7 linked regions of the Homo sapiens genome follow. The protein of the gene in region 2 purifies or fractionates together with the protein of the main gene of each other region. This does not show direct contact. Each region holds a gene or a part of one and is shown on either strand. Other genes may lie near its edges. The genes, in order: TOB2, CNOT6L, DCC, LRSAM1, CHAF1A, OBI1 and MAP4K4.

Evidence for each region.
Region 1: the proteins of CNOT6L (region 2) and TOB2 purify together in Homo sapiens (affinity purification with mass spectrometry; one large-scale study listed by BioGRID and IntAct). This does not show direct contact.
Region 3: the proteins of CNOT6L (region 2) and DCC purify together in Homo sapiens (affinity purification with mass spectrometry; one large-scale study listed by BioGRID and IntAct). This does not show direct contact.
Region 4: the proteins of CNOT6L (region 2) and LRSAM1 purify together in Homo sapiens (affinity purification with mass spectrometry; one large-scale study listed by BioGRID and IntAct). This does not show direct contact.
Region 5: the proteins of CNOT6L (region 2) and CHAF1A purify together in Homo sapiens (affinity purification with western blotting; one study listed by BioGRID). This does not show direct contact.
Region 6: the proteins of CNOT6L (region 2) and OBI1 purify together in Homo sapiens (affinity purification with mass spectrometry; one large-scale study listed by BioGRID and IntAct). This does not show direct contact.
Region 7: the proteins of CNOT6L (region 2) and MAP4K4 purify together in Homo sapiens (affinity purification with mass spectrometry; one large-scale study listed by BioGRID and IntAct). This does not show direct contact.

What each region holds. Positions count from the first base shown.
Region 1 is NC_000022.11:41,436,242-41,440,684, forward strand, and holds part of TOB2 (protein Tob2), read right to left. Parts: intron 1,167-4,443; 5' UTR 1,105-1,166; coding exon 70-1,104; 3' UTR 1-69. UniProt on the Homo sapiens protein: Anti-proliferative protein inhibits cell cycle progression from the G0/G1 to S phases.
Region 2 is NC_000004.12:77,738,990-77,743,432, forward strand, and holds part of CNOT6L (CCR4-NOT transcription complex subunit 6-like), read right to left. Parts: intron 3,331-4,443; coding exon of another isoform or gene 3,307-3,330; coding exon 3,152-3,306; intron 1,215-3,151; coding exon of another isoform or gene 1,119-1,214; intron 1-1,118. UniProt on the Homo sapiens protein: Has 3'-5' poly(A) exoribonuclease activity for synthetic poly(A) RNA substrate.
Region 3 is NC_000018.10:53,203,649-53,208,091, reverse strand, and holds part of DCC (netrin receptor DCC), read right to left. Parts: intron 2,877-4,443; coding exon 2,728-2,876; intron 414-2,727; coding exon 275-413; intron 1-274. UniProt on the Homo sapiens protein: Receptor for netrin required for axon guidance. Mediates axon attraction of neuronal growth cones in the developing nervous system upon ligand binding. Its association with UNC5 proteins may trigger signaling for axon repulsion.
Region 4 is NC_000009.12:127,475,510-127,479,009, reverse strand, and holds part of LRSAM1 (E3 ubiquitin-protein ligase LRSAM1), read right to left. Parts: intron 77-3,500; coding exon 47-76; intron 1-46.
Region 5 is NC_000019.10:4,419,242-4,423,684, forward strand, and holds part of CHAF1A (chromatin assembly factor 1 subunit A), read left to right. Parts: intron 1-3,324; coding exon 3,325-3,554; intron 3,555-4,093; coding exon 4,094-4,154; intron 4,155-4,443. UniProt on the Homo sapiens protein: Acts as a component of the histone chaperone complex chromatin assembly factor 1 (CAF-1), which assembles histone octamers onto DNA during replication and repair.
Region 6 is NC_000013.11:78,638,168-78,642,610, reverse strand, and holds part of OBI1 (ORC ubiquitin ligase 1), read left to right. Parts: intron 1-397; coding exon 398-489; intron 490-3,539; coding exon 3,540-3,788; intron 3,789-4,443. UniProt on the Homo sapiens protein: E3 ubiquitin ligase essential for DNA replication origin activation during S phase.
Region 7 is NC_000002.12:101,858,207-101,861,706, forward strand, and holds part of MAP4K4 (mitogen-activated protein kinase kinase kinase kinase 4), read left to right. Parts: intron 1-789; coding exon 790-876; intron 877-1,436; coding exon 1,437-1,658; intron 1,659-2,618; coding exon 2,619-2,780; intron 2,781-3,500.

The sequences.
Region 1 (4,443 bases), on a different chromosome or scaffold from region 2:
TTTTTTTTGGCCTTTCCTTTCTCTTTTCTGTGGTCTTGGGTGCTCCTGGCCCCACGGGCAGGTAGATGGTCAGTTGGCCAGCACCACGGGCTGGAACTGCTGGCTGGGATACTGCATGGTGTTCAGGTTGTAGCTGAGGCCTTCCACAAAGGGTGTCTTCTCCAGGAAGAGGCTGTTGGCACCACCTCCAAATACCTGGGCCATGTCAAAGCTGCTGCTGTTGCAGGTGCCAGCCCCACTGCCTCCAAACGGGCCTGGGGTGCCGCTGCCCTGGCCATCGGCCGCATCAAAGAAGAGGCTGGGTGAGCCACCACCGTTGTACACGAACTCCTTGGCATTGGGTGAGAGCTGGGACTGAGGGGCCGGGTTGGCCGTGATGAAGTTCAGTGAATGCATAGACAGAGAGAGGCTCTTGTGCTTCAGCAGGCTGTTGGTGGGTGAGCGGGCCATGCGAGGCTGCTGTGGTGGCTGCTGGCCACCCGCCCCACTGCTGGCTACACCCCCACCACTTGCTGCCCCGCCCCCCTTCTTCATCTTAGTGGAGCCAAATTTGGTGGCAGCGAAGGAGGCGGTGGTGAAGGTGATGGGCTGAGCGGAGCGGGGAATGAAGGTAGGGCTGGGTGACTGGCCAAAGGATGGCGATGGGGAGTTGGACAGGGAGCTGTCCTGGCTGCCAATGGGCACGAACACCTGGGCGTCAGGGTTGAAGCTGCTCTTGATCTCCTTGTCCAGCTCTGGGGCACCGCAACCCTCACTGTCATCCAGGTACAGCACTTTCACAGCTCCCTTCTCACCAATCTGGTAGGACACCTCAAAGGGATCAATCCAGACACTCAGCTCCTCAGGCACATTGGCCCGCACATCTTCCACCGCCAGGCCACTCCGCTTGGCGGCCAGCTCCACCACGGGGTCCACCATCTCCCCAATGTGAACACAGCGGAAGCCAGAGCCTTTCAGTGGCTTCTCAGGGTACCAGTGGCCTTCATATTTCTTTTTCAAAAGCCGCTCTAGCTCCTCCCCAAACAGGTCTGCCCGGCGCCGGGGCAGCTTGTTGTACAAGTAGGAGATGATGAAGTTCAGGGCCACTTTGATCTCTAGCTGCATGGTCCTTTCCTAGGCAGAGAATCAGCACAGGGCACGTGTACAGCCTTGGGCTCCAGGCGGCTCTGGGAAATGAGAGGCACCGTGAGAAAATATGCAGAAAGCTGGTGGTGACCAACAGCTAGGGATAGACAGAAAAGCACCAACTTTGGATCACACAGAACCAGGAGCCTATTTCTGCCCCACCAGTGGCTCATGTCTGACTGTGGGCCCCAGTTTCCTCATTAGTAACATGAGGCCATCATGAAGTTAAGGTAGTTCAAGGATATAAACTGCCTCACAGTGTACCTGGCAATTAAAAGGTAATTGATAAAGTTAGCTACTATTGGCCGGGCGCGGTGGCTGATGCCTGTAAGCCCAGCACTTTGGGAGGCTGAGGCAGGTAGATCACGAGGTCAAGAAATCAAGACCATCCTGGCCAACATGATGAAGCCCCATCTCTACTAAAAATACAAAAATTAGCTGGGCATAGTGGCGCATGCCTGTAGTCTCAGCTACTTGGGAGGCTGAGGCAGGAGAATTGCTTCAACCCAGGAGGCAGAGGTTGCAGTGAGCCGAGATCATGCCACTGTACTCCAGCCTGGCGACAGAGTGAGACTCCATCTCAAAAAAAAAAAAAAAAAAAAAAAAAAAAGCTACTATTTTAAAGTAATTCTAAAGAAATAGGGAAGCTGTGTTTTCCACCATCTTGAGAATTCAGGTCACTGTATGAATGACACTAAAAAAATCAAGTCCCTAAATCAGGTGAAGAAGAAGTCTCTTGCTGTCTCTGCAATATCTTGGTGAAGTCGTGCCCCCAAACTGTCACAGACTAAGATGTAAGTTTAAAATATTTGGTTGTCCTCCTTAAATGAAAAGGGATACAGGTCACTGAACAGGAAAGAGCACTGCCAATTCTTCACTGGGGGCCTGGACTCCAGTCACATCCATCTGTCATCATGGGCCCCATGGGTGTGTATGCTGTCTGGTTCAGTCCAGGTTTGCAGAACTGATTTAAGAACTCCGGCCAGGTGCAGTGGCTCATGCCTGTAATCCCAGCACTTTGGGAGGCTGAGGCGGGTGGATCACCTGAGGTCGGGAGTTCGAGACCAGCCTGACCAACATGGAGAAACCCTGTCTCTACTAAAAATACAAAAAATTAGCCGAGCATGGTGGTGCATGCCTGTAATCCCAGCTACCCGGGAGGTTGAGGTAGGAGAATCGCTTGAACCCAGGAGGCGGAGGTTGTGGTGAGCCGAGATCGCACCATTGTACTCCAGCCTGGGCAACAAGAGCGAAACTCTGTCTCAAAAAAAAAAAAAAAAAAAAAAAAAAAAAAAGGAATAAGACATAAGACAAGAGCATGAGCCCCAGGAAAAAGGCAAGACCTGTCACAATCAGAGATGTGGACCAACAAGGGAACTGCTGACTCGGGGCTGCCACAGGGAAGCAGAGAAAAGGAGGGGGAATCTCTGTAGTTTCTGGTGAGAATGTAAGTGATGAGGGTGGCAGAGGAAAGAAATTTTCCATCACCCTGCAGCCTCCGGTAGGGACCCATCATCACTCAGTCTCCCAGGGACTGTCTGACCACCTGTCCTCGGCAGCAGATCAGATTTATCAAGTGTTTTGAGATCCCCGGAGAGAAGGCAGCCCAAGATAAACACCAGATTGTTATTTTGGGATTCTCTCACAGCCAGATCCCACTGAGGTCAAAAAGGTTTATTCCCTTGGCCTGGGCCAGCCTCATGTCTCAGGAAGATGATCTGTGAGGTCCTGAGAGCCAGTGATCCTAATCTCATTTTCTCCAAAAGGGCAGCTCCGGGGCTCATGCTGGGGGAGAAACTGAACTGAAAGAGCCATCTCTGAGAGGAGGCAGAGCCAGAACATGTTCCTAGCCAGACCTCTGGGCAAGGCTGTGCTGCTGAGCTAAGCAAAGAGACATGACTGCTCCATGAACTGTCAAGGGCATCTTCTGTCCTATGAAAGACTTGGGGCTGGATTTTGATTCAAATCCTTTCTGGATCCAGCTTGAAGTATCCAGGTGCTAATTTCAGGCTTGGGGATTTTGAGTTTTCTAAACACCTGCCCCAACACATTTCCCTGTAATTCTCAGGCCTGGGCCCATGGCTCTTAAGGGGCATTTAATTTAATTTAATTTTACGTATGTATGTATGTATGTATGTATGTATGTATGTATGTATGTATGTATGTGGAGACTGAGTCTCGTTCTATCGCCCAGGCTGGACTGCAGTGGCGTGATCTTGGCTCACTGCAACCTCCACCTCCCAGGTTCAAGTGATTCTCGTGCCTTGGCCTCCTGAATGGCTGGGACTATAGGTGCCCGTCACCACGCCTGGCTAGTTTTTGTATTTTTAGTGGAGATGGGGTTTCACCATGTTGGCCAGGCTGGTCTCAAACTCCTAACCTAAAGTGTTCCGCCTGCCTTGGTCTCCCAAAGTGCTGGGATTACAGGCATGAGCCAACACACACGGCCTTAAGGGGCATTTTTGGGACTAAATCCTCAGAAAAAGATTTCTGGGGTGAATGTATCAGAGAAGACTCACTGGGTCAATCTGGAGCAGCATGACAGTGGCTGAATCTAGTTAACCCTCATTTCAGTTCTGAGGAACAGAGAAGGTCACATGGGAGTCAGCAGAGGTACCACAACTATGCCTCTCCCAAACCCTCCACAAGAACACTCAGGACTCAGAATACCCTGGTTTCCCTCTTTTCCCAGCCTCCAACACAGACTTCATCTCTAAGTTTCTTCAAATGTCTATTTTTTTCTTTTTCTTTCTTTTTTTTTTTTTTTTTGAGACGGAGTCTTGCTCTGTCGCCCAGGCTGGAGTGCAATGGCACGGTCTCGGCTCACTGCAACCTCTGCCTCCCCGGTTCAAGCGATTCTCCTGCCTCAGTCTCCCAAGTAGCTGGGATTACAGGCGTGCACCACCACTCCTGGCTAATTTTTTTTTTTTTCAGTAGAGACGGGGTTTCCCCATGTTGGCCAGGATGGTCTCGAACTGCTGACTTCGTGATCCACCCACCTCAGCCTCCCAAAGTGCTGGGATTACAGGCATGAGCCACCGCGCCTGGCCTCTTTTTCTTTTTTTGAGACAGGGTCTCACTCTGTCACCCAAGCTAGGGTGCAGGATCACAGCTCACTGCAGCCTCCACCTCCCTGGGCTCAGGTGATCCTCCCACTTCAGCCTCCAAGTAGCTGGGACTACAGGCATGTACCACCACACCTGGCTTTTTTTTTTTTTTTTTGACATGAAGTCTCTGTCACCCAGGCTGGAATGCAGTGGCGTGATCTCGACTCACTGCAACCTCTGCCTCCTACGTTCAAACAATTCTCCCACCTCA
Region 2 (4,443 bases):
GGTGCTGCCAAATCCTGAAGTAGATTCTGAATCCCCCAAAACTAAACTAGAATAATGTGATTTAAAGAACAGTGTATTATATTCTAATTATCTGAATATTGGTAACTTGTGTCCTAGCCTTTACTAAACAATACTCTATCCTTTCATCATGATGGATTAGAGATTTTTATTATAGTATTTTGCTATAAATGGCAATTATGATAGTTTCCATTTATTGTTGCGTATTCTGTACCAGTTTTTCATGTATGATTAAACAGTCATCAGTGAAGATGAGGAATTATCAGATACTCTGATTACAGAAGAAAGAGACTGAGAGTAAGTACAGTGTTGACTACTCTTCCACAGTTATCTTTGTTAGTTTTGTAACCTCTACAAAAATGATCTTACAAGATAAGAATATACAAATGAAGAAACAGGTCCAGAAATGCTAAGTCTTTCAACATTATATAGCTAAATAAATAGAAGAAGCACCTGGCTTCAAAACTCACAGTCTTTTTTTGCCCTATATTTCCAGTCTGAAGAAAGAATAAAGGCAGGGTATAATACTTTAAATTCCAAATAGTTGGCACTGAATAGTCAGCTAAGACATGGATAAATATCTGGTACTGGGACAGAAGGTGGTTTTGTTCTACCTATAGGAGGTATATAGTCCTGTCATTCCAGGAAAGAAGTTGAAAAGAGGTACAATATACTGATGTATCACATTCAATCTGTTGCCAGATCCATGTTACTATTCAGGAAAAAAGAGTTGAGGAAGAAAAGAAAAACAGGTGACACATCTAAGTACTTCCTATGTGCTCATTACTTAACTAGTTCACAGCATTTTTAATAATTCAAGAATCAATTTGCAAATACCCAGATAACAGTTCTAACTGTTATTTCAAAGCCTTAACTACTTCTAGTAAATTGTTAAGGAATTTTAGATTTTTCCTCTCAAAACTGTGAGAGTAATAATAAAAATCTTCCATATTATCTTGAAAGAAACTATAGCAAATAGAAAAAGAGCCTGATGTTAGATGTCTCAAGTTTACTGGTGCATTTTTTTTTTAAGCTATGGTGTTTCAAGGGGATTTGTGTATGAACATAGGTAACAAATATCGTCAGGCACGGTGGCTTACGTCTGTAATCCCAGCACTGTGGGAGGCTGAGGCGGGTGGATTGCTTGGACCCAGGAGTTCAAAACCAGCCTAGGGCAACACAGCAAGACCCCATCTCTACAAAAAATACAAAAATTAGTTAGGTGTGGTGGCATGCACGTGTAGTCTCAGCTACTCAGGGTGCTGAGGTGACAGAATCACCTGAGCCTGGGGAGGTTGAGGCTGCAGTGAGCCATGATCGCCACTGCACTCCAGCCTGGGTGACAGAGTAAGACTCTGAGACCCTGTCTAAAAACAAAAACAAATGTCAAATTCAGGGCAATTTTTCTAAATGAGGTAATCTTATAAGAGGTATTAGTGATATCAAAAGCTCAAACAAGAAGGCTAAAGATTCAGTTTATTACAGTAGTTAAAAGCATGGACTATGAAATCAGACTGTGTAACTGGAACTAGTTATTGAACTTGTCTGTACCTTGGTTTCCTCATCTTTAAAAACAAGGAAATAGCTGTATAGCTGCCTGTAAGAGTTGCTTTAAAATTTGAACAAGACAACTAATATAAACAATTCGAAAAGGCTGACAGATGGCAAACACTCTGGAAGTACGGTCATATACCATATAACAAGATTTCAGTCAACAAGGGACTACATGCCGATGGTAGTCCCACAAGACTATAATGGAGCTGAAAAATTCCTATCACCCAGTGATGATGTAGGTGTCTTAACATCACAGCACAATACATTACCTTTTTTACGTCTAGATATGTTTAGACTCAAATGCCATTGTATTACAATTGTCTATTTACTACAGTAACATGCTGTACAGGTTTCTAGCCTGGGAACAACAGGCTATACCTTATAGCCTAGGTGTATAGTGCTGTACCATCTAGGTTTGTGTAAGTGCACTTCATGATGTTCCCACAACAACAAAATCACCTAATGATGCATTTCTCAGAACATATTCCCGTAGTTAAGAGATACGTAGTTTTAATAGAATTATTCTAAAATGCATAAAAAATTACCAAACCATTAGAAGAATTTAGTATATTCTGACCTCAAATACTACAAGGCTTTGTACTAATTATTAACCAAAATAAGAATATCTCTACTACAAATTCATGGAAAAGACAGGAAAGTAGGCATAGATAAATGGGAAGTGGACCAAATATCTTTCAAATTCATTGAATTTGTTTACTTAAAATAGCATGTCATGCTGGTAATATGCTTGGATCAATAAAAACAGATTGGCTTTGGTAAAATAGATGTAAAATGGGGAAATACTGGAAAACAGCTGTAAGCATGTATATGCTTATCCTGTAAGATGATTTCCTAACGTATGAAATCCAAACTATTAACCATGGGATTCAACCTCTATCAGATGTCACGTTTCATTTTCCATTGCCCTGTCTCAGTCAACCCTTTTAACTCTCTACCTCCATATGCTCTGTGCCTGCCTCTCTTATCTACCCAGGCAGACCTCTATCTTATATTACACCATATGATATTGCAATTGTCTTATATGCCTAGTTTTTCCTACTGGATTTGAGCTTTCAGTGAGATTAGGAACTATGTCTTGACTATCTTTGTGTCTGTTGTGTCTAGCACAGGACTTATCACAAAGCAAATGCTCAGTATACATTTAGTGAATAAATGATTTTAAAATGAATGATTCTCAAAAATCAATTATTAAAAAAAAATCACAGAAAAGAAACCCAGATCACTTATGGCCAACCTTAAAAGGTATCACTTTCTTTTTTTACACAAAAACTAATACTTTACTTCATGAAAATATGTTCTGAAATATGAGACCATTCAAGTCTGTATCTCTTAAAATGTTCAGTGTTATTTGGTAATAAAAGCATAAGGAATAATACAATAAATATCCTTATTTCGAATACACAGCCTGAGAAATGAAACATTAACAACAGTTTTAAGTTGCATAATACTTGTTTTCTAGCTTTCTGTTGATTTTATAGGGCAAAACCAAAGACAATTTTAAAGTGTAAGCATTTAAATAAATAAAAGTACACCATTGTGCTTTGTTTCCTTAACTTACTTTTCTGTTTTGAAGAATATTGCACAACCATCTACATGCTTTCTCTCCTGCTCAGACATGATTTTGGCACGTGACTTTGGAGAAAAAAATCCATCATATCCACGCTCCTTCAATGCTGGCAGAAAGAGAGTGAAGTATTGCTCTGTTTCCACTTCCTGAGATGAAAGAAAAGTTATCATCTATATGACAGAGGGAAAATGCTGATTAAGATATAAAAATGTTCAGCATTATGAGTAAGATGTAACTTAGTAAAAATAATTCACATAGCAAATATTATCTTACTATCTTACCTGATTGCTAGCAGCTGCTACTTGACAATGGCAGCTTTTTAAACATGAAAGAACCAGAAAGGTGACATGATTTTCTCATGCTCACACAGATAGTAACAGGAGTAGGACTACATCCCAAGGTCTCTTGATTCCCAATTTACAGTTCACTCCATTATACTTTACTTCCTCAAGACTGGCAACTAAACAAAGCAAGTTGGGTATATGATAGATTCTGTGATAGGGAATAGTAATTTATATATAAAAAGGTAATTTAAAAACTTGCATATCCTTCTGAACTATGGTGGAAAGAAATGATACCCAAGAGTGAGAAACGTAAAATCTATCCACAAAAAATTCTACTTTAAGAAATTTTTAAGTACCTAAATCGCAATCATCCAATGGCCTCTATTAATTTAATAATTATTAGTCTATTTTATTCTTTGACTCATAAAATATTTTAACAGGTCTTTCTAAATGAAATAAATATGAAGATAATTTATGTATGCAGATGTTTCTAACAGCATGAGTTTATGACAGCAAAAACCCATAAACAACTAAATGTGTCCAATGGTATGGGAAAAGCTACATCAATATACGTTCATATAATTAATGAGTTTTGAAGAATTTTAGTAACATGGAAAATCCATTAAGTACAATAAATAAGAATCAAAATGTATCTGTAAATATATTTTACTTAATGTATAGAAGAAAAATACTCCAGAAGTTTTAACACAACTATCTTATGACATGAAATTAGGTATTTCCCTCCATCATGCTTTATATTTTTTCAAAATTTTCAACTTCTCTAGAATGATCTCTTTTTAATACAGTATAGTATTATAGCATTGCTTTTATAATAAGACAATTTTCTTAAATTATGTTCTATCCTTCAAACTGCTATATTTAGGAGGGTGTGAGGCTGTTATCACTACAAATACTAAACCAAGAAGTAGACAAGAAACTACAATAGCCTGATTTTGTTTGCCGCCTCCTCTCCCCAATTCTCTGTTAGTCTCAGTATTT
Region 3 (4,443 bases), on a different chromosome or scaffold from region 2:
GGGTCTCACTATGTTGTTCAGGTGGGTCTTGAACTCCTAGGCTTAACTCATCCTCCTGCCTCAGTCTCTTAAAGTGCTAGGATTACCTGTGTGAACTACCACATCCAGCTGGGAGTATGTATCTTGATAGAAAGTTTACATTTAACTGTAATAGTCCATAAAATTTTAGTCAGGAAGCCTTGAAAATGGAATATATGATATATGTGCAATATCATGTCATTATTGTCAATATTATGTCAAATATGTAAAAGGAGTTTCACTGTTTTTAACTTACCGTCAGAAAGTGTAACCACTGTTATATCATCAGTAGAGACGCCCGGACCATAGCGATTATAAGCTAAGAATCGAAGACTATATTCGGTGAATTTTTTCAGGCCTTCCAGTTTATAAGATAGTCCATCAACCTCTATATTCTGGAGACATAAAACACCAAAACTGTTATCAAGGAAGCACATTAAAGTAGAAATGGCACTCATTCTGTGCAATCAGTGAATTGGACATTAGACTCTTACAAACTACACTCCAGCCTTCTAATGAGCTATAAAACCTACCTTGTGACACAGACTCCCCCACTAAAAACCAACTAATCTGTAGACTCCTTGTTAAAACAGCACATGCTATTTTTACAGTCATTAAGTTCCAATTTGTTTAACACTACTCAATGTACTGAATGGTTTGGGTTATTCTACCCACACCTAAACCCTCACAGGCAGAAGGCAGCTTATAACGCCATGGGAACAGAGATTTTCTCCTGTACCCAAAATGGAATAATTCACCAAGAAATAATAGATTTTGTGCTTCTCTTGCTGAAATATACCCACAGCTCTTGAAACTGTCAGACACTTTGCCACAATTTTTATCTCCCAAAATGCTGTTAGATTGGTTGAAATTATTTGAGCCTCTCATGGCTGCAGTAAATGAGATACTGGAGGTGAAGGTTACTGAGGAATCAGATCTTCACACTCACATCTATCTTGGATGATGATGGTTTTGAATTTATTTAAATTGGTTGGCAAAATGCGTTGAAGAGCTAAAATATATAGAAAGGCAGATAAAACAGAAAGTTGAAAAAACAAGAGCAAAAAATAGCTTGAAGATAGCAAGAAAAAAATACAACCCATGATTACATAGGAGGAGCTCTTGTAATGCTTATCTTATAATATAATTTGGGACTGGGCTTGAGCTATTTTTGAATATAAAATATTTCTTATTTTTAAGTAAAAATTCTGATCATGCAGTTTATGTGAAAGCAGGAAGGCCTTTCTATGCTTGACAAGCTTCACAACAAATAATAAGAACTCCCATATCCTGGGGCCAATTTTTGATTTAACTATTGAATATATACATGTCTGTATATATTTTCCTACATGAAGTTGAGAATCTGGAAGTAAATACCTCAACAGTCATACATATATATATGCATTATAAATATGTATACATATATTATATATATGTATACATATATGTATTATATATTATACATAGATATGTATTATATACATATAGATGTATAGATATGTATTATATAATACATACATGTATATATACATAGATATGTATTATATATAATACATGTATATACATAGATATGTAATACATATACATTATATATTATATATACTATATATAACACATACATATACACATATATGTATATATACATATATACATATATGTGTTACAATACATATATGTATATATACATATATACATATATGTGTTACAATACATATATGTATATATACATATATACATATATGTGTTACAATACATATATGTATATATGTGTTACAATACATATATGTGGTATATATGTGTTATAATACATATATGTGGTATATATGTATTATGTATAACACATATATGTATATATACACATGTATATGTATTATATATGTATACGTATATGTATTATATATGTATATGTATATATGTATTATATAATATATAATATATGTATATGTATTATGCTTATATATGTATTATACATGTATAATACATATACGTATATATGTAATATATATGTATTATATAGGTATACATATTATATATACACATATATATGAAACTCAATTTCTATTTTTAACATATGTGTGTGCATGTATCACCAAATAGAATTTTTCAGTTTCATGTGTCTCCCTAAAGACCTTTTTACTTTTAGTTTACCTGAACAGTTAATTTGCTTCTTTTCAGGTGTCTATGCTAACCATTGGGTAGGAGCAAAATGTAAGGAGAAGGAGACTAGGCTTCTCAGAGTAAGTTCTTCTGAAAACATTAAAAAATGGTAGGACACATCCTGATGATGGAAGGGAGTTAGATATAAATGTCTTAGAATGAAAAAAGCAGTTTGGCAAACGCCATTGACTAGGAGGGCAATCACCCCTTAGTCTAAGGAATAAAACTGCAAATGCCTTCCACGACCAGGTGAGTTAATACAAATCTGGTTGCCCACACACGCCAGGCCACTGCAGACTCAACCAAAAAATTGGTATCCTTTCTATTGACTTCACTTTATTGCCCATTTACCTCTTACCACCAGAATTTAATTAAATTGTGTAAAGTTTCCAATAACAAGTGCTTTAAAACTAATCAGCTTTTCAATGAATGTGTTAACACTGGGCTGTTTCAAGAGTTTGCGAGTCTTTTCCTATTTCTCCAGCCCTAGAGCTATCCAATGGATGGAAACATCCAACAGATGGAAGCAGTGTGGTCCATTCCTTCACCTACCTGTTCTTTTCCTGTGGACACCTCAGTGCAGAACAATCTGTAACCTTGGACTGGACCGTTTGCATAGGCAGGGGGTTCCCAGGTAATAAGAATTGAGGTAGGTGAGGTAGATACAGCTTGCAGGTTTTCTACTGGCCCTGGAACTTGCACTGTATAAAAAAATAATAAAGAAAGAAAGAAAAGTGATTAGGATAAGTGGGTTTTTGTTCTCAAAACAAACAAAATTACATTTTTACAGTTCAATAAAATTCTAGGAGTATGTATTTTAGAATAATATGGAATAAGAATATAAAAATATAAACTCTGGAAGCTTTAGAATCGCTTCATTTTAAAATTCATAAGAAAGCTTACATTAACCAAAATTGCCTATTTTATTTTACATTTAGAGAAACTGGTAAAGGAGTACAAGTGACTAAGATAATGGCAGCAAAGAGTGGGATTGTGAATCTAAATTCTTAGTCTGAAAAATTTGCCACTATGCCACTATGTCTTTGCCTGCACATGGCTAATAACTGCAGAAGGAAAAGAGAAAGTACATTTGGAGTACTTGTATATTATGGTTCTACTTATAATTAAAATAGGTCGCACAGCTATGGATAATTTACCACATTGTCTTTCTTTAAGTCAGAGTTTTAAAATCTTGCCTGATTCTGGGTTCATTAAATGAATTTTAGTGTTCCATTTTCAATTCCACTTTTTAGTATTACATTTTCTCTTATTATTGTTACTTAAGAAGGATAAATAACTTGTCTGCTAATGAAATTAGACAGCACAGATCCACAATCGTTTACCTAAAACACTTTTTTTTTTTTTTTCCAGAAACAGAGTCTTGCTCTGTTTCTCAGGCTGGAGTGCAGTGGCATGATCACATCTCACTGCAACCTTGAACTCCTGGGGTCAAGCAATCCTCCTGTCTCAGCTTCCTGAATAGGTAGGACTACAAGCATGCACCATCATGACCAGTTATTTTTTTATTTTTATTTTTTGTAGATACTGGGTCTCACTATGTTGTTGCCCAGGACAGTCTTGAACTCCTGGCAAGCGATCCTCCTGCCTTGGCATCCCGAAGTGCTGGGATTACAGGTGTGAGACACCACACCCAGCCCAGGTATCTTAAGATTTTGAAACTTTCAGATTTTAGAAAAGTAACATAGTATCTGTGCAGGGTTTTTTTTTCTTTTTTCCCTAATGGGGTCTGTAGTAGCACCCTGTTAATCAAATGTAACTATATATTTGCAGTAAAGCATATGATACTCATATCAAATTGTTTACATTGTTAATCAAATGTAACTATATATTTGCAGTAAAGCATATGATATTCATGCCAAATGGGCTCATTAGAGACTATGAATAGCCTAGCATGAGGTCAGGTCAGGTTCAGATACAGAATGTGTTAAGAAAAAGCTTCCATTTTGATTCTCTGCAAATTTTGTATTTTTTCATAATTTTGTATTCCTGCATATGGACCTGTATATAGCTTGTAAATGGTAAATGCAATGGCCACACTATGGTTACCTAAAATCAACAAATGATACCACCATTCCAGGTTTAACTACAGCCTTACTTAATAATGTTGTCTGTGTATTTTCCCCAGGCTTGGATAACACCTAGCTTTGGACAGATATACATTGTAGGCCTGTAATACAGTTCTGAGAGTTTGAACTTCCATAGCAAAAATGGCATAGGAAAAACTGACTGGCATGAATCTGTTGATAC
Region 4 (3,500 bases), on a different chromosome or scaffold from region 2:
TCTTTAATGAGAAAAGAGTGACAGAAGGGTAAAGGCATTTTCTTACCTTCCTCTTCTCATAGTCTGAGAACCTGTTCTGGGAGGAAAAAAAGACAGTGGTCAAGAGAGGGTGGCAGCAGTGGTTCTCCCTGGCATGGGCACCAGGAACCCCCGGGTGGCCTGATGTTATACAAACTCTGGCCCACCCCAGACCACTGCCTCAGAATGGTGGGGTCGGGGGATGAGGGGATCCGTATTGATCAAGGGCACCAGGTGGTTCCAGTGGACACCTGATGAGAACCCCTGGGCTGTCACTGTGTGCATGGCACTGTAGGAGGGGCTCTTCAAGACAGTTCTGGGATGCAGCCCTGAGCAGGGATGGTGGTCTGAAGAGCAGAGCAGGAAATGGGATATCTGATGCCCATGGATGTCTGCGTAACACACCTACAGCACCCGGTTCCAGTCCACCAAAATACTCACAGTGCACAAAGGTGTGGGTACAACTTCCTGCAGAATTATTCAAAAGAGCAAAAACACTGGAAATAACTCATACATCTATCAACATCTGTCCGTAAGTCATGGTGCATCCATACAGTGGACTATTACACAACCGCCAATGGGGCGAATGTGTGAGATCCCTCACCTGTGTGTAGCATGATTCTACTTTTGCAAAAACATCATCAAGAAAACTCAACTCTGAGCATATGTGTGAAGGTATTGAGTCAAAGGTCAAGAAGGACAGTCATTAATCAGTTAATGATGACTACCTCCAGGCAACGGGAGTGCAGGGTGGAAGGGTTGACATTCACTTGGTTTGTAATTGTCTGTATTGTTTAAATTTATAACAAGGAGCAGGTATTAAACATCAATAATGTAATGTAATTATTGGTGTTTAATTAATTAATTTATTATTGATGTAATTAAACAGCAATACACATATACACAAGAGTTAGGTTCTTCTTTTTTTTTTTTTTTTTTGAGACGGAGTTTTGCTCTTGTTGCCCAGGCTGGAGTGCAATAATGGCACAATCTTGGCTCACTGCAACCTCCACCTCCTGGGTTCAAGCAATTCTCCTGCCTCAGCCTCCTGAGTAGCTGGGATTACAGGCACCCACCACCACACCCGGCTGATTTTCTGTATTTTTAATAGAGACAGGGTTTCACCATATTGGCCAAGCTGGTCTCGAACTCCTGACCTCAGGTGATCCATTTGCCTCGGCCTCCCAAAGTGCTGGGATTATAGGCATGAGCCACTGCGCCCGGCCCACACAAGTTTTTTCTTTGTGATGGAGTCTCACTCTTGCCCACGCTGGAGTGCAGTGGCACAATCTCAGCTCACTGCAGCCGCGACCTCCTGGGCTCTAGTGATCCTCCCACCTCAGCCTCCTAAGTTGCTGAGACTGCAGGCACGCACCACCATGCCTGGCTAATTTTTTGTATTTTTGGTAGAGACAAGGTCTTGCTATGTTACCCAGGATGGTCTCAAACTCCTGAGCTCAAGCATCCACCCGACTCGGCCTCCCAAAGTGCTGGGATTATAGGCGTGAGCCACTGCGCCTGGCACACAGGTATTTTTTGAATGGTCCTTCTATTTAGTTATCCTGTTTTGAGAACAGGATCAGTCTCTGAATTATAAAAGCAGCAACCTATAAATAGGATTTTGCCTATACTAATGGTAGGAATATAATTTTAAAATTAATCTTCAATTATACAGATAACATCTCAATATATTCTCCTTGTAAAAGTTTGAAACATGGTATAAAAAACTAAAGCATCTACTGACCACTCCAGCCTAACCCTGGTTCCCCTCCCACCCCACACCTCCTGTCAGGTGTAACTGTCATTATCAGGCCCAAGGCATGCATCTGTACATATATAATTTGTGCCTTTGGGAAAGAAATATATTTGTATTTGTGTGCATATATAAACATTTTTTTAATCAAGTATAATCTATTTACTCTAATTCACCCAATGTTAGTGAACAATTCTATGAATCTTTATATATGCATAGAGTTCTGTAACCTCTAAACACAATTAAGATAGAAAACAATTCTGGCTGGGCGCGGTGGCTCATGCCTGTAATCCCAGCACTTTGGGAGGCTGAGACAAGTGGATCACTTGAGTTCAGGAGTTCGAGACCAGACTGGCCAGCATGGTGAAACCCCGTCTCTACTAACAAAATGCAAAACTTAGCCAGGCGTGGTGGCAGGTGCCTGTAATCCCAGCTACTCGGGAGGCTAAGGCAGGAGAATTGCTTGAACCTGAGAGGCAGAGGTTGCAGTGAGCTGAGATCATGCCACTGCACTCCAGCCTAGTGTGACAGAGTGAGACTCTGTCTCAAAAAGAAAAAAGAAAACAATTCCATCACCCTCGAAAATTCGCTCATGCCACTTCATCATCAAATCCTCTTCCCACTCCAGCCACTGGCAACTACCTGTCTGTTTCCTTTTTTTGTTTTGAGTTTTCTTTTTCTTTCTTTTTTGAGATAGGGTCTAGTTCTGTTACTCAGGATGGGGTGCAGTGGTGTAATCTTAGCTCACTGCAAACTCCAACCTCCTGGGCTTAAGCCATCCTCCCACCTTAGCCTCCCTCGTAGCTGGGACCACAGGCACGTGCCACTATGCCTGGCTAATTTTTTTGTATTTTTTGTAGAGACAGGGTCTCGCCACATTGCCCAGGCTGGTGTTGATTGAGTTTTCTTTTTAAACATAAGAATGGAAATAGACTAGCCCATCCTGTTCTGCAATCTGCCCTTTTCACTAATCCATGTGTCCCAGCGAGCCGAGGCTCAAATGCTCCATCTCATGGTGTGCACATGACCCAGGGGCAGTGCCTTCTCACTGACAAACATTTGGGGGGCATCCAATACTACAAATAAGGCTGCAATAAACACTCCTGCAAATGTCTCCTCATGCAAGCATTTATCTTGGGTATACATTGAGAAGCGGAACTTCTGGATCACGGGCTGTGCCCATGAAAATTTTTGACATCTGGCGGGTGTGGTGGCTCACACCTGTAATCCCAGCACTTTGGGAGGCCGAGGTGGGCAGATCACTTGAGGTCAGGAGTTCGTGACCAGCCTGGCCAACATGGTGAAACCCCGTCTCTACTAAAAATACAAAATTAGCCGGGCATGGTGGCGCATCCCTGTAATCCCAGCTACTCGGGAGGCTGAGGCAGGAGAATCACTTGAACCCGGGAGATGGAGGTTGCAGTGAGCCAAGATTGCACCACTGCACTCCAGCCTGGGCAACAGAGTGAGACTCCATCTCAAAAAAAAATAAAAAAATAATAAAATCTTTTTTGACACCTACTGTCAAATTATCCTCCAAAGTTGTGATACCAATTTTCACTCCCAAGAGCAGTTTATGAGGACACCTGTTTTCCCATACTCTGGCCAACAGAAATTGTCATGTCAAAATGTGTGCCAATCTTGAGGAAGGAAATGGTATTTCAATGTTGTTTTAACTTAACATGCCTCTCCTCTGATTACCAGCAAAGTTGGCATTTTTAAATGTTTG
Region 5 (4,443 bases), on a different chromosome or scaffold from region 2:
CAAACCAAAACTCCAGGGAAGGCCTCTGGGCTTTGCCTATGCAGTGCCAGCTCACAGGAGGGGCCTGGTGACCATGGGCTCTGCGTTTACTGAGTGTTTCCTGAGCTCCCTGATGTTCACTGGGCGTTTCCTGAGCTTCCTGATGGCCACACTGAGTTTTTGTGTTTCAGATTTGGGGTTGATTTTTATTTTATTACTTTTTTTTTTATTGAGACACAGTCTCTGTTGCCCAGGCTGGAGTGTAGTGGTGCAATCTCGGCTCACTGCAGCCTCTACCTCCCGGGTTCAAGCGATTCTCCTGCCTCAGCCTCTCGAGTAGCTGGGATTATAGGCACGAGCCACCACGCCTGGATAATTTTTTGTATTTTTAGTAGAGACAGGGTTTCGCTATGTTTGTCAGGCTGGTCTCAAACTCCTGACTTCAGGTGATCCACCCACCTTGGCTTCCCAAAGTGCTGGGACTACAGGTGTGAGCCACCACGCCCAGCCTGATTTTTATTTTTACAGTTTATCTCATTCTTTGGAACAAGAGCACTTTTAAAGCTCATTGGAACCTCCGAGTCCCGCACACCGGGTTGGGGAGCGGAGAAAGTATCCAACGGCGGCTGAAGAAATCTGATTCACCTGCAGTTTCTAGAAGCCTTCTATTTCCTGCTTAGCAACAGGGTGGGAGACTCTTCACCCAGTTATGTTTATAGTCTCCTTGTTCAGTCCAGACGGTCACCTTCCTCGTGTGTCTCGTATATCAGATGCAGTCACACAGCACACTGGCAGGAAATGCACATCAGACATCTTCCAGGCTGTGTCTCTGTGGCTTTTGTTAAAGCTACCAGAGATGTATTGGAACACATTTAGAATTTTTCCTTAGAGACAAGGGCAGATATCCTAACCCAAACTGAAAGCTGAGCTGTCAGGCTCCAGACGTGTGGGAAGCCCATATTGGATGAGAGGTGGTCCTCATGCAGTGTTAGGAGCGGGCACCTGTGGAGCTGGGCAGGTGAGCGTTTTTTTTTTTTATTTTGAGACAGTCTCGCTCTGTTGCCCATGCTGGAGTGCAGCGGCGTGATCTCGGCTCCCTGCAACCTCCACCTCCCAGGTTCGAGCGATTCTCCTGCCTCGGTCTCCCAAGAAGCTGGGATTACAGGCACGTGCCTTCATGCCCAGCTAATTTTTGTATTTTTAGTAGAGACGGGGTTTCACCATGTTGGCCAGGCTGGTCTCGAACTCCTGACCTCAAGTAATCCGCCTGCCTCGGCTTCCCAAAGTGCTGGGATTACAGGTGGGAGCCTGCGCCTGGCTGAGCATGTTTAACATTGAACTTCAGATTACGTAATGACTGAGTGTCCCAGGCCACTGCCAAGTCTTTGGAATGAGGAACGTAGTGATGAAGTGTTACTTCCTTAAAGAATTTGAAACAAGGCTGGGCGTAGTGGCTCGCCCCCATAATCCCACACTTTGGGAGGCCAAAGTGGGAGGATTTCTTGAGCCCAGGAGTTTGAGACAAGCCTGGGCAACGTAGTGTCTCTACTAAAAAGAAAAAGAATTCCTGGGCTGGTTGCAATGGGTCATGCCTGTAATCCTAGCACTTTGGGAGGCTGAGGTGGACAGATTGCTTGAGCGCAGGAGTTAAAGATCAGTCTGGGCAACATAGTGAGACTCCATCTCTACAAAAATTAGCCAGGTGTGGTGACAGGTGCCTGTGGTCCCAGCTACTCGGGAGGCTGAGGCAGGAGGACTGATTTGAGCCCAGGACGGAGGTTGCAGTGAGCCAAGATAGCATTGCTGCACTCCCTCCAGCCTGGGCACTAGAATGAGACTCTATCTCCAAATAAATAAATAATGTTTTTTTGTTTTGTTTTTCAGACAGAGTCTTGCTCTGTCACCCAGGCTGCAGTGCCGTGGCGTGATCTTGAACTGCCTTGTGGGTTTAAGCGATCCTTGTGCCTCAGACTCCTGAGTAGCTGGGACTATAGGTGTGCGCCACCACATTCAGCTAATTTTTTTGTATTTTTGGTAGACTTGGGGTTTCACCTTCTTGGCCAGGCTGGTCTCAAACTTCTGGCCTCAAGCAATTTGTCTGCCTCAGCCTCCCAAAGTGCTGGGATTATAGGTGTGAGCCCCCTCAGCCCAGCAGGATTGTGTTTTAAATGAATCTTATATTGAATTTCCCACAAGTACCAGGACACAGGGCTAATTCTTAACATTTTTCTCATGATGGAAGGAAGCATAATGGATTATGAAAATCACTTCTGTGGCTGGGTGCTGGGGCTCATGCCTATAATTCCAACACTTTGGGAGGCTAAGGCAGAAGGATTGTTTGAGGCCACGTGTTCAAGACCAGCCTGGGCAACACAGCAAAACCCCATCTCTAGGAAAATTACAAAAATAGCTGGGTATAGTGGTGTGTGCTTATAGCCCCTGCTACTCAGGAGCCTGAGGTGGGAGGATCACTTGAGCCTGGGAGGTCGAGGCTGCAGCCAGCTATGACTGCACCACTGCACTCCACCATGGGCAACAGAGTAGACTTTGTCTCAAGAAAAATAAAATCACTTCTGTGTAAAGTTGTTGACTGGAGGCTCCTCCTGGAGCTGGTCTCTGAATTCTTATTTATTCATTTATTTTTTTAACTGAGTCTCAGTTGCCCAGGCTGGAGTGCAGTGGTGTGACCTCAGCTCACTGCACCCTACGTCTCCTGGTTCAAGTGATTCTCCTGCCCCAGCCTCCTGAGTAGCTGGGACTACGGGTACCCTCCACCACGCCTGGCTAATTTTTTTTTTTTTTTTTATTAAATGGAGTCTCACTCTGTCACTGATGCTGGAGTGCAGTGGCACCGTGTTGGCTCACTGCAACCTCCGTCTCCTGGTTTCAAGCAATTCTTCTGCCTCAGCCTCCCCAGTAGCTGGGATTACAGGCGCCCACCATGCCTGGCTAGTTTTTTTTAAAAATATTTTTAGTAGAGATGGGGTTTCACCATCTTGGCCAGGCTGGTCTCGAACTCCTGACCTCAGGTGATCCACTTGCCTCGGCCTCCCAAAGTGCTGGGATTACAGGCGTGAACCACCGCGCGCAGCCAATTTTTGTATTTTTAGTAGAGACAGGGTTTCACCCTGTTGACCAGGCTGGTCTCAAACTCCTGACCTCAGGTGATCTACCCACCTCAGCCTCCCAAAGTGCTGGAATTACAGGCGTGAGCCACCATGCCTAGCCTTGGTCCCTCAATTCTGTTCATCCCGTCCAGGCCGTGCTGTCCTCCATGCTGTGAACCGAGCTTCCTCCTGGGAGTTGGAGGGAGGGCCACCTGTCACTTGCCACACTGTCTTGTAGGATCAGGAGCGTCTGGGCAAGCAGCTCAAGTTACGTGCAGAAAGGGAAGAAAAGGAGAAGCTGAAAGAGGAGGCCAAGCGGGCCAAGGAGGAGGCCAAGAAGAAGAAGGAGGAAGAGAAGGAGCTTAAGGAAAAGGAGAGGCGGGAGAAGCGGGAGAAGGATGAGAAGGAGAAGGCGGAGAAGCAGCGGCTCAAGGAGGAGCGGCGCAAGGAGAGACAGGAAGCCCTGGAGTGAGTGTCCTTGGAGGCCATGCTGGGCCCGCCACCCTGCTGCTGGATTCCGCTCCTGGCCACTCTGATGGGGCCTTTCCACTTCACAGGCAGATGGCGGCTCCCTTCAGTTCCTTCCCATTTCTCCTTCGTGAGGTGCCCGTGGGGCCCTGACGTGGGAGCGGTGGAAAGCAGCTCCCTGCTCTTTAGTGCTCCCCCACGTCCAACTCACCCTGGACCCCTTGTCTCTGCTGTGACCATCCTTCCAGTTCCCAACCAACTTAGGCATTTGCATTGCAGGATTGTGGGTTTTGTCTGTGCTAATTGTGCTCTGACTGGCTAAAGTTTTTTATATATATTCTAGTCACAGGAAGAATTTTATTGACTGTTTTCCATTTTTATTGTGAAGACCTATGTAAAAGCCTTATACTAGACATGAAAATAACTTATATTCATTTAATGTAAAATGAAATACTTGCCATATACTAACAGTTGAGTGCTGCGGTCCCTTCCAGAGCCAAAGCAAAGAGTCGGCTGAAATGTCATTTGCTGTCTCACAGGGCTAAACTTGAGGAAAAAAGGAAAAAGGAAGAAGAGAAACGGTTAAGAGAAGAAGAGAAGGTAGAGTGTTTCCCACAGAGCTTCCCCGTCCCAGCCCGTTGGAGAAGCAGATGCCCAAAGTGGAATTCTTGCCACAGCCGTCACCTAATATTCTCTTGGTTTGGGGAAACCAAATGGCGCCCGCAGGGAGGGCGAGTCTGTCTAGATGCGTTCTTGTTGCTTCTTCCCAGTGCTGGCTGTCACATGCCTACTGGCCCTGCAATCCTGGCACTTCTACCCACAAGGGCAACTTGGACATTTTGAGATTGGCTGGCTCAGTTGCGGGTCCGTGGGTTTTGAGAGCTGAAAA
Region 6 (4,443 bases), on a different chromosome or scaffold from region 2:
ACCCAGCCAGTAATACATTTTTATATAATCTCTTGGTTAAATGTAAATGTAATAATTGGTTTTATTATTTAAATATAGTCTAGTTTTCAGAATTTGAAGTAGTCCAAATGTGATAATTACAGCCCTTTCCTCCACTGAGTTTGCTGTGATAAGATATGTAGATATGTAAATACAATATGATGTGTTACTGAAGGTATTTCTTATGGTGTTATTTGATATATTTTTTTTTCCTCAAGATTAGGGTAGAGAAAAGGCCTAGATGTAAGCCCCAAGTGTGTATGTAAGGGGAAGGGTAGATGTGAAGCTGGGAAGCTATATAAAACAATATGAAAAAGGATCATTTTCATTCTTCCCGAATCAGAATGAAAAATTAGGATTTTTTTTTTTTTCCCTACAGGAGGAACAAGTGAAAGTGAACCTATGCTAAGCCATACGGTCAGGAAGCATCTTCGGAAAACTAGACTTGAATTACTACACAAAGAATATGAGGTAAACAGTAATCAAAGTTTAAAATTATGTTAGCAGTGAATTCAAGGTAAAAACTGACCTACCTCAGTCCCCAGACTTCTTAGAGTAAATATCCAATGAAATTTTATTTTAAAAGCCTATAAAAAGAAATTGTTTGATAAATTCTTTTTTCTTTTTTCCTTTCGTATTTTAAATAGAGGAAAGAGATTTTTTGTTTTATTTTTTTTCTTTAAGTACCAAGGAATGGGGGAATGGGATTCCAGAAAAAAGGAACAGATGGAAGCATTTCTTTCTTTTTTTTTTTTTTTTAAGTTAAAATTTGTACCTCCACAGACATATCATTTTGTATTTGCTTCCTCAAGAAGTTGGGAGAAAAAGGAAATCTCCTTGTGAAAGCCAGTCTGACCTCTGCAGTCATCAGTTGCTTCTGCCTATGAAGTTACTGATGATTATAAGCCTGATCAATTCTAGTAAAGTAAATACTATACCTTATGTCAACTGCCAGCACAGAGATTTTAGTGTGAAACATGCTGTTTCCTAATTATTGTCTAAAGGTGAATGAACAGGATGATTGGACATGGTGATGCTATTTTTACAAATAAATTCATGCTAATAGAATACATACACTTTTGAATAGTACACATTAAGCCCAGTTGTCATTTTATGTTGACTGAAGAAGGAGATATCGATCCCCTCTTGACTCAAAATATCTTTCAGTTTAACTGTGTACATGGAAGGTGCCTCAACTGCCTCAAAAATTTTTGGAATGCAGTGGGGTATAAATACATGATTGAATATATGTTTATTCATATATGTGTTCCTTACATATATGAATTTGCTTGTTTTATGAAAATGCTATTTAAGTTGAAATGTATTGCAATTTAAAATAGTAAGTAGTACTATCTGTGTGACATTTAATGCTAAAATGTATTTTTATATAATGAATATTTATCATACTCAGATGGTAAACAAATTAATCCTTTGGGAGATCACTTGAGCTACTTGGGGGTTTATTTTCTAGCAGAATTTTTAACAACCTCAATTTAAGGTGACATATTTATTATAGATGAATAAATGGCATCATAGTAAGAAGTTCTAACCCAAATGTTTAGTGACTGGTTTTAGGATAATAAACATTTCCAGAGTGGGAAGGCTAATACTTGCAATAGTCACAGTAGTAATTGAAGAACCAGAATCCAGAAAAGTTGAAAATTCAAAATTAACTACAGATATTATTCTGGAATGAAAAGTAGAAGGAAATGGTAGATGGTTTCACTCATACTTCAAATATAGAAGTGAAAGTATAAATATCAAAACCCTAACAATCCTCTTTTTCTTTTTTGAGACAGAATCTCATTCTGTCACCCAGGCTGGAGTGCAGATGGCATGATCTCGGCTCACTGCAACCTCCGCCTCCTGGGTTCAAGCAATTCTCCTGCCTCAGCCTCTCAAGTAGCTGGGACTGCCGGTGCCTGCCACCACACTCAGCTAATTTTTTGTATTTTTAGTAGAGGCGAGGTTTCATCATGTTGGCCAGGCTAGTCTTGAACTCCTGACCTCAGCTGGCCCACCTGCCTTGGCCTCCCGAAGTGCTGGGATTACAGGCACGATCATCTTGATAACTCTGTACAGTCAGCCCACCATATCCAAGGATTCATCATCTGTGGATTCAAACAACCAAGATTGAAAATTAAAAAAATAAATATATATAAAAATAATGTAGTTTAATAACTATTTGTATGACATTTACTTTGTATTGGTTATTATAAATAATCTAGAGATGACTTAAAATGTATGGAAAGATGTATGTAGGTTATATGCAAATACAGCACTAGTGATTTTCCATCAGGAACTTGAACATCCATGGATTTTGGTATCCCTAAGGGTCCTAGAACCAATCCCCTGTAGATGTGGGGATGAGGTGGGGACAAACTGTACCTTTTTTTTTTTTAACCCGGCCCCCCTCAATGTACTTTCAAATTCCCCTCAGTAAAGCAGTTGAGTATGCCTCAAGTTTTTTGTTTTTTTGTTCTTTTTTGAAATGGAATCTACTTCCCTGTTGGAATTCATGTGACTTTTCTTATTTTCTGGATGATATCTTTTTTTTGTTTGTTTGTTTTGTTTTGTTTTTGTTTTTGTTTTTGTTTTTAATTATACTTTAAGTTTTAGGGTACATGTGCACATTGTGCAGGTTAGTTACCTATGTATACATGTGCCATGCTGGTGCGCTGCACCCACTAACTCGTCATCTAGCATTAGGTATATCTCCCAGTGCTATCCCTCCCCCCTCCCCCCACCCCACAACAGTCCCCAGAGTGTGATATTCCCCTTCCTGTGTCCATGTGATCTCATTGTTCAATTCCCACCTATGAATGAGAATATGCGGTGTTTGGTTTTTTGTTCTTGCGATAGTTTACTGAGAATGTTGATTTCCAATTTCATCCATGTCCCTACAAAGGACATGAACTCATCATTTTTTATGGCTGCATAGTATTCCATGGTGTATATGTGCCACATTTTCTTAATCCAGTCTATCATTGTTGGACATTTGGGTTGGTTCCAAGTCTTTGCTATTGTGAATAATGCCGCAATAAACATACGTGTGCATGTGTCTTTATAGCAGCATGATTTATAGTCCTTTGGGTATATACCCAGTAATGGGATGGCTGGGTCAAATGGTATTCCTAGTTCTAGATCCCTGAGGAATCGCCACACTGACTTCCACGATGGTTGAACTAGTTTACAGTCCCACCAACAGTGTAAAAGTGTTCCTATTTCTCCACCTGGATGATATCTTAAATAGAATCAAAGATTTGGCATTTTTAAAAATCACAACTAACATTGAATTAAAATGAAGGCAACATAAATCCCAATTTTTATCAGTCAGGCCACATTTTGAGAATTTAAACTGTATGTGACTTTCTCCCTGCAAAACTCTTTTGATATGTAAAGAATCTATGTATCTACAGAATTTTAAGTACAAAATTCAAACCATGTTGGCTTCAGTTTAGCATATGTATGTATGTGTTTAGTGTCTATGCCTGCCTCATGACTATGCAATGCTTTTTCAGGACGAAATAGATTGTTTACAGAAAGAAGTAGAAGAGCTTAAGAGTAAAAATCTCAGCTTGGAGTCACAGATCAAAACTATTCTGGATCCTTTAACCTTGGTGCAGGGCAACCAAAATGAAGACAAACATCTAGTCACAGATAATCCAAGTAAAATTAACCCAGAAACTGTAGCAGAGTGGAAGAAAAAACTCAGAACAGCTAATGAAATCTATGAAAAAGTGAAAGATGATGTGGATAAGCTAAAGGAGGTAAGTTGTGGTTTTTAAAAATCTATTATGGTTGTTTTTAAAATAAGTACCTTCAAAAGCATAAATAGCCATATTATCTTGACTCATCATCAGATGATTTGTGAGGAAAGGACAGAATCTCTGGATGAGCATTTATATGCAATAAGAAGACTTTTTCTTATTTAAATATCATTAACTGCCAAGAAATATCAGGTGGTTCCATGTGTGACTATAATTAGAGACTGTTGTGCTTCTGTATAAGATTGCATCTTCTTCTAGAAGAATAATACCAATTTAAAGGATGTGTTTCTGTTTCGTCCTCTTTGTGGTTTGCCATAGGTTTTTTAAGCTTATATCAGCGACTTCCCCTGTGTACCTAAAAACAAACACATAACCATTTTCGCACCAATGAAAGGAAAAGTTTTGACCTTATCTTTTCTTTTGCTACCACTCTCTTATTTTTAAGATTGTAGATAGATAAAGACTTGGTGACTAATTCCAGGACAGCAATAAGCAGCTGCTTCAGAGTACCTCATGCAAAAGAATGTTGTGATTTATGAAACTGGTTCATTTTTTTCAGTTTTTCTTTGAACGAGATACAGCATGGTGAAAAAGGCAAACCTCTAGGATTTTTCGGCCTAGAAAGGGAGATAAGATCCATGCCATCAGCACTAGA
Region 7 (3,500 bases), on a different chromosome or scaffold from region 2:
GAGGCCTCCTGGTATCCCTGTCCTTTATAATACGCATGCAGCTTTGAAGTAGGGTTTTACCCCTCTCTATAACATATTTGGGATGTGTTTACTTGTTTTCATTGTTATAATGACTAATCATTCTCTTCTCATTGAAAAGAAAAACCACCCCATCCTCACTTCCTGCTGTCTTTCTCTCCCCTTGTCCTTGTCTGTCTCTGTCTGTCACACACACACAAGCTCATCATGGAGCCTGGGTCTGTTCATTTGAGGAGAGTTGCCCAAGTCTGGAATGTAGTCATTCCAGGTGCCTTTGGAATTGTTAGTGAAAGCATGAATCATGTTTGTTGTATTTTATTATTAAGCAGGTTTTGGTTTTAGGTTTCAAAAATTGGTGATCTGTGCTTGTTACAAATAATGACTAATAAGCAGATGTTTACTAATCAGAACCCTCTGATACTTTTTAATTAAAATCTTGATTTCTCTGGGGTTTACCAACCTTAAGAGGAATGGCATACTGTTTTAAAATTCTGTATTTGTTTACAACAGCTGTGTTCTAACAGAAGTACTCTTAGATCCCTTCGTGTATATTATGGGAATGCATATCATCATTTGTTAGACTCCTTAGGTCTTACTGGCCAATTTGAAGTTCTTGGAGAAATCTTTAGCAATAGATTTTCTTCAGGTATTTACCACTAAGTGAATTGTCACTAAAGGTGATTGGAGCAAATGGTTCTTGGTGCTCCATTCAGGTGGTTCTGATGCTTTTCTTTGGGATAATTTGATTGCTGGGTGATTTCTGTGTGACAGGAGTATATCAGGCGACAGCTAGAAGAGGAGCAGCGGCACTTGGAAGTCCTTCAGCAGCAGCTGCTCCAGGAGCAGGCCATGTTACTGGTAAAGCCCCGCCTCTGTTTCATTCTGTAGCATCAGGGCTCCTTCATCCGTCCCCAAAGTTGAGCAAGCTGTGGTGGTCACCAGACCATTTTGGTTTTGCTGTGGGCAGCCAGGCTGAAATAGTGATGCCCATTTTGTGGTCCTATTGCTAGCACATTGCAACATGGTCTTTATTTATTTATATCTCTTTAATAAGTTAATTGTTCTTGTTTGGTAGACCAACAAGGTTTTGAACAGAACTTGGCACTCAGTGAACACACTAGAATGCTGAGGGCAGTAGGTTGAAAGCACATGTCACAGGATTTTTACCTAGTATCTATACCACTAAAACTCACATTTAATTGAATTATCTCTTACTCTGTCCAATGATAATTATGGTTAGCAACAGCTGTGAGATTTTTCCACAGGTAATGTGCTATTTAAAATCCCAGCCATTTTGCTTTCTTACAAAACACAGAGGGAAAATATATGGTCACTTTTTTTAAAAGCCGAACAAATCCAGAGAAGAGGCGAGCTCTCCAGTGTCCCATAGATTTAGTGTTATCCTCTCCCTCTCCAAGGAGTGCCGATGGCGGGAGATGGAGGAGCACCGGCAGGCAGAGAGGCTCCAGAGGCAGTTGCAACAAGAACAAGCATATCTCCTGTCTCTACAGCATGACCATAGGAGGCCGCACCCGCAGCACTCGCAGCAGCCGCCACCACCGCAGCAGGAAAGGAGCAAGCCAAGCTTCCATGCTCCCGAGCCCAAAGCCCACTACGAGCCTGCTGACCGAGCGCGAGAGGTATCCTCTTTCCTTTGTCACTTAGACATTGCCCTGGAAAGTCGTATAACGACTCTTCAGAACTGTGTCATATGAGTTCTAGAACGGGCCATAGAGTTTAGCTAATTATCTGGTTTCTTCATTTTCTAACTAGGAAATTGAATTTCAGAGGAGTGGAGGGCCTTGCCCAAGGTTTCATATTCAGTCAGTGCTTTTTCCATAAAGGACCAGAGTGCCTCAGTTAACATATCCCAGAAGAACTTGAAACTGAACTAAACTAAAAGATTACATGACACAGTCACTCTTAAAAATGTGGATGAGGGAAAGAGTGGTCTGATGAACTATTCTGCCAAGCTAGTATAAAGCTAAAGTGTGCCTGTGGCTCAACTTTCTGACTTTGCAGATGTCAAGATGCCCTGCTAGATTGGTGCATTAGGGTTACCCAGAGCCTCAGAGTAGGCTGCGGCAGGGACTGCTCGGGGGTGCAAGATGGGCGACAGGTGTGCCTCCAGAGGTGTTGAATCCCGGCCCACAGGTGGCAGCAGCCTTCTATTGTGTCTGCCCTCACAGGCAGTAGATTCTAGAAACAAGTGTTCTGTTTGTTCTGGAGTGCTTTTATATTTGGTGGAGTGAAATGCATTCCGGATTTCTGATGATAGTTTTTTAGTCTGTTGGTTTAGTTGCTTGTGACAGATTAATTTTTTTCTACTTCATCATCATATACAGTCTTAGAATTCTGAGCAAGGAGGAGAGCTTAGAGACTGCCTTGCTAATTTTTATCTTCATAAATATTTTCTTTTTCCTGAATCTAATCCTAGCACTGCTTTATGTACCTTCTTTTTTCCAGCTACCCCTCTCTTTTCTGGTAGCAGAAGAAAACAGAAAACTTACCTTTAGATTTCTTCCACTTTTAGACTTTCTTTGATATTTCTGCTTTTCCCCTACTAACACTGAGTTATGTCTTCTAATTCTCTGATGCAGGTGGAAGATAGATTTAGGAAAACTAACCACAGCTCCCCTGAAGCCCAGTCTAAGCAGACAGGCAGAGTATTGGAGCCACCAGTGCCTTCCCGATCAGAGTCTTTTTCCAATGGCAACTCCGAGTCTGTGCATCCCGCCCTGCAGAGACCAGCGGAGCCACAGGTAGCGACAGCCAGCTTTGCTGTGGTTGAGGAGACTCATGCAACGGCTCGCTGAGCCGCAGGCCTGCTGTAATATCACAGTTTAGTTTGTCACCACACTGAAAAAGAGGAGAGATTAGCAGGAGTGAGTTTAGACTAAAAGAAGGCATAGACTCAGTTGATAGGGAAATATCTTTTTCTTTCTTTTTGAGATTTCTATGTACTCATTAAGAGTATCTAGAGTGAGTGATTTCTTCTAACTTTTTGCCTTCCCTAACTCAGGTGTTAAGTGCCTCCTTTTTCTGATACAAAGATCTTTTAGTTTAGTTTTTAGAGAACTGGGATTATAAATACATAGAGGGAGAGCCAGGAATTTTCTTTGAAGTATTTTAAAAGTAAGCGCTTTACTGTGTGAGCCCTGGCTCTTGGCCAGTCCTATGAATGGGCCTTAGATGATGCCCCTGAAATTGCATGCAAAATGTCTTTATTTGCTCAAATGTGTATTTTTTGTGGGGGTGGGGGGAATGACCTTTTATCAGATTCTCACAGGGTTCAAGATCCAAAAAAGTTTAGATCTAGTGGGTTAGGTGTGGATTTCTCTGAAATAGGCCAGGGAAAAGGCTGTGACCTCTCCTTGGGTCTGCTGCAGCGTTCTAGCCTTGGCTAGGTGAGGGGAACTGTTGGGCCGATGCTGTGTGGCTGGAGCAGAACCCACAGTGCTGTCCATAGAGGAGAACAAGCA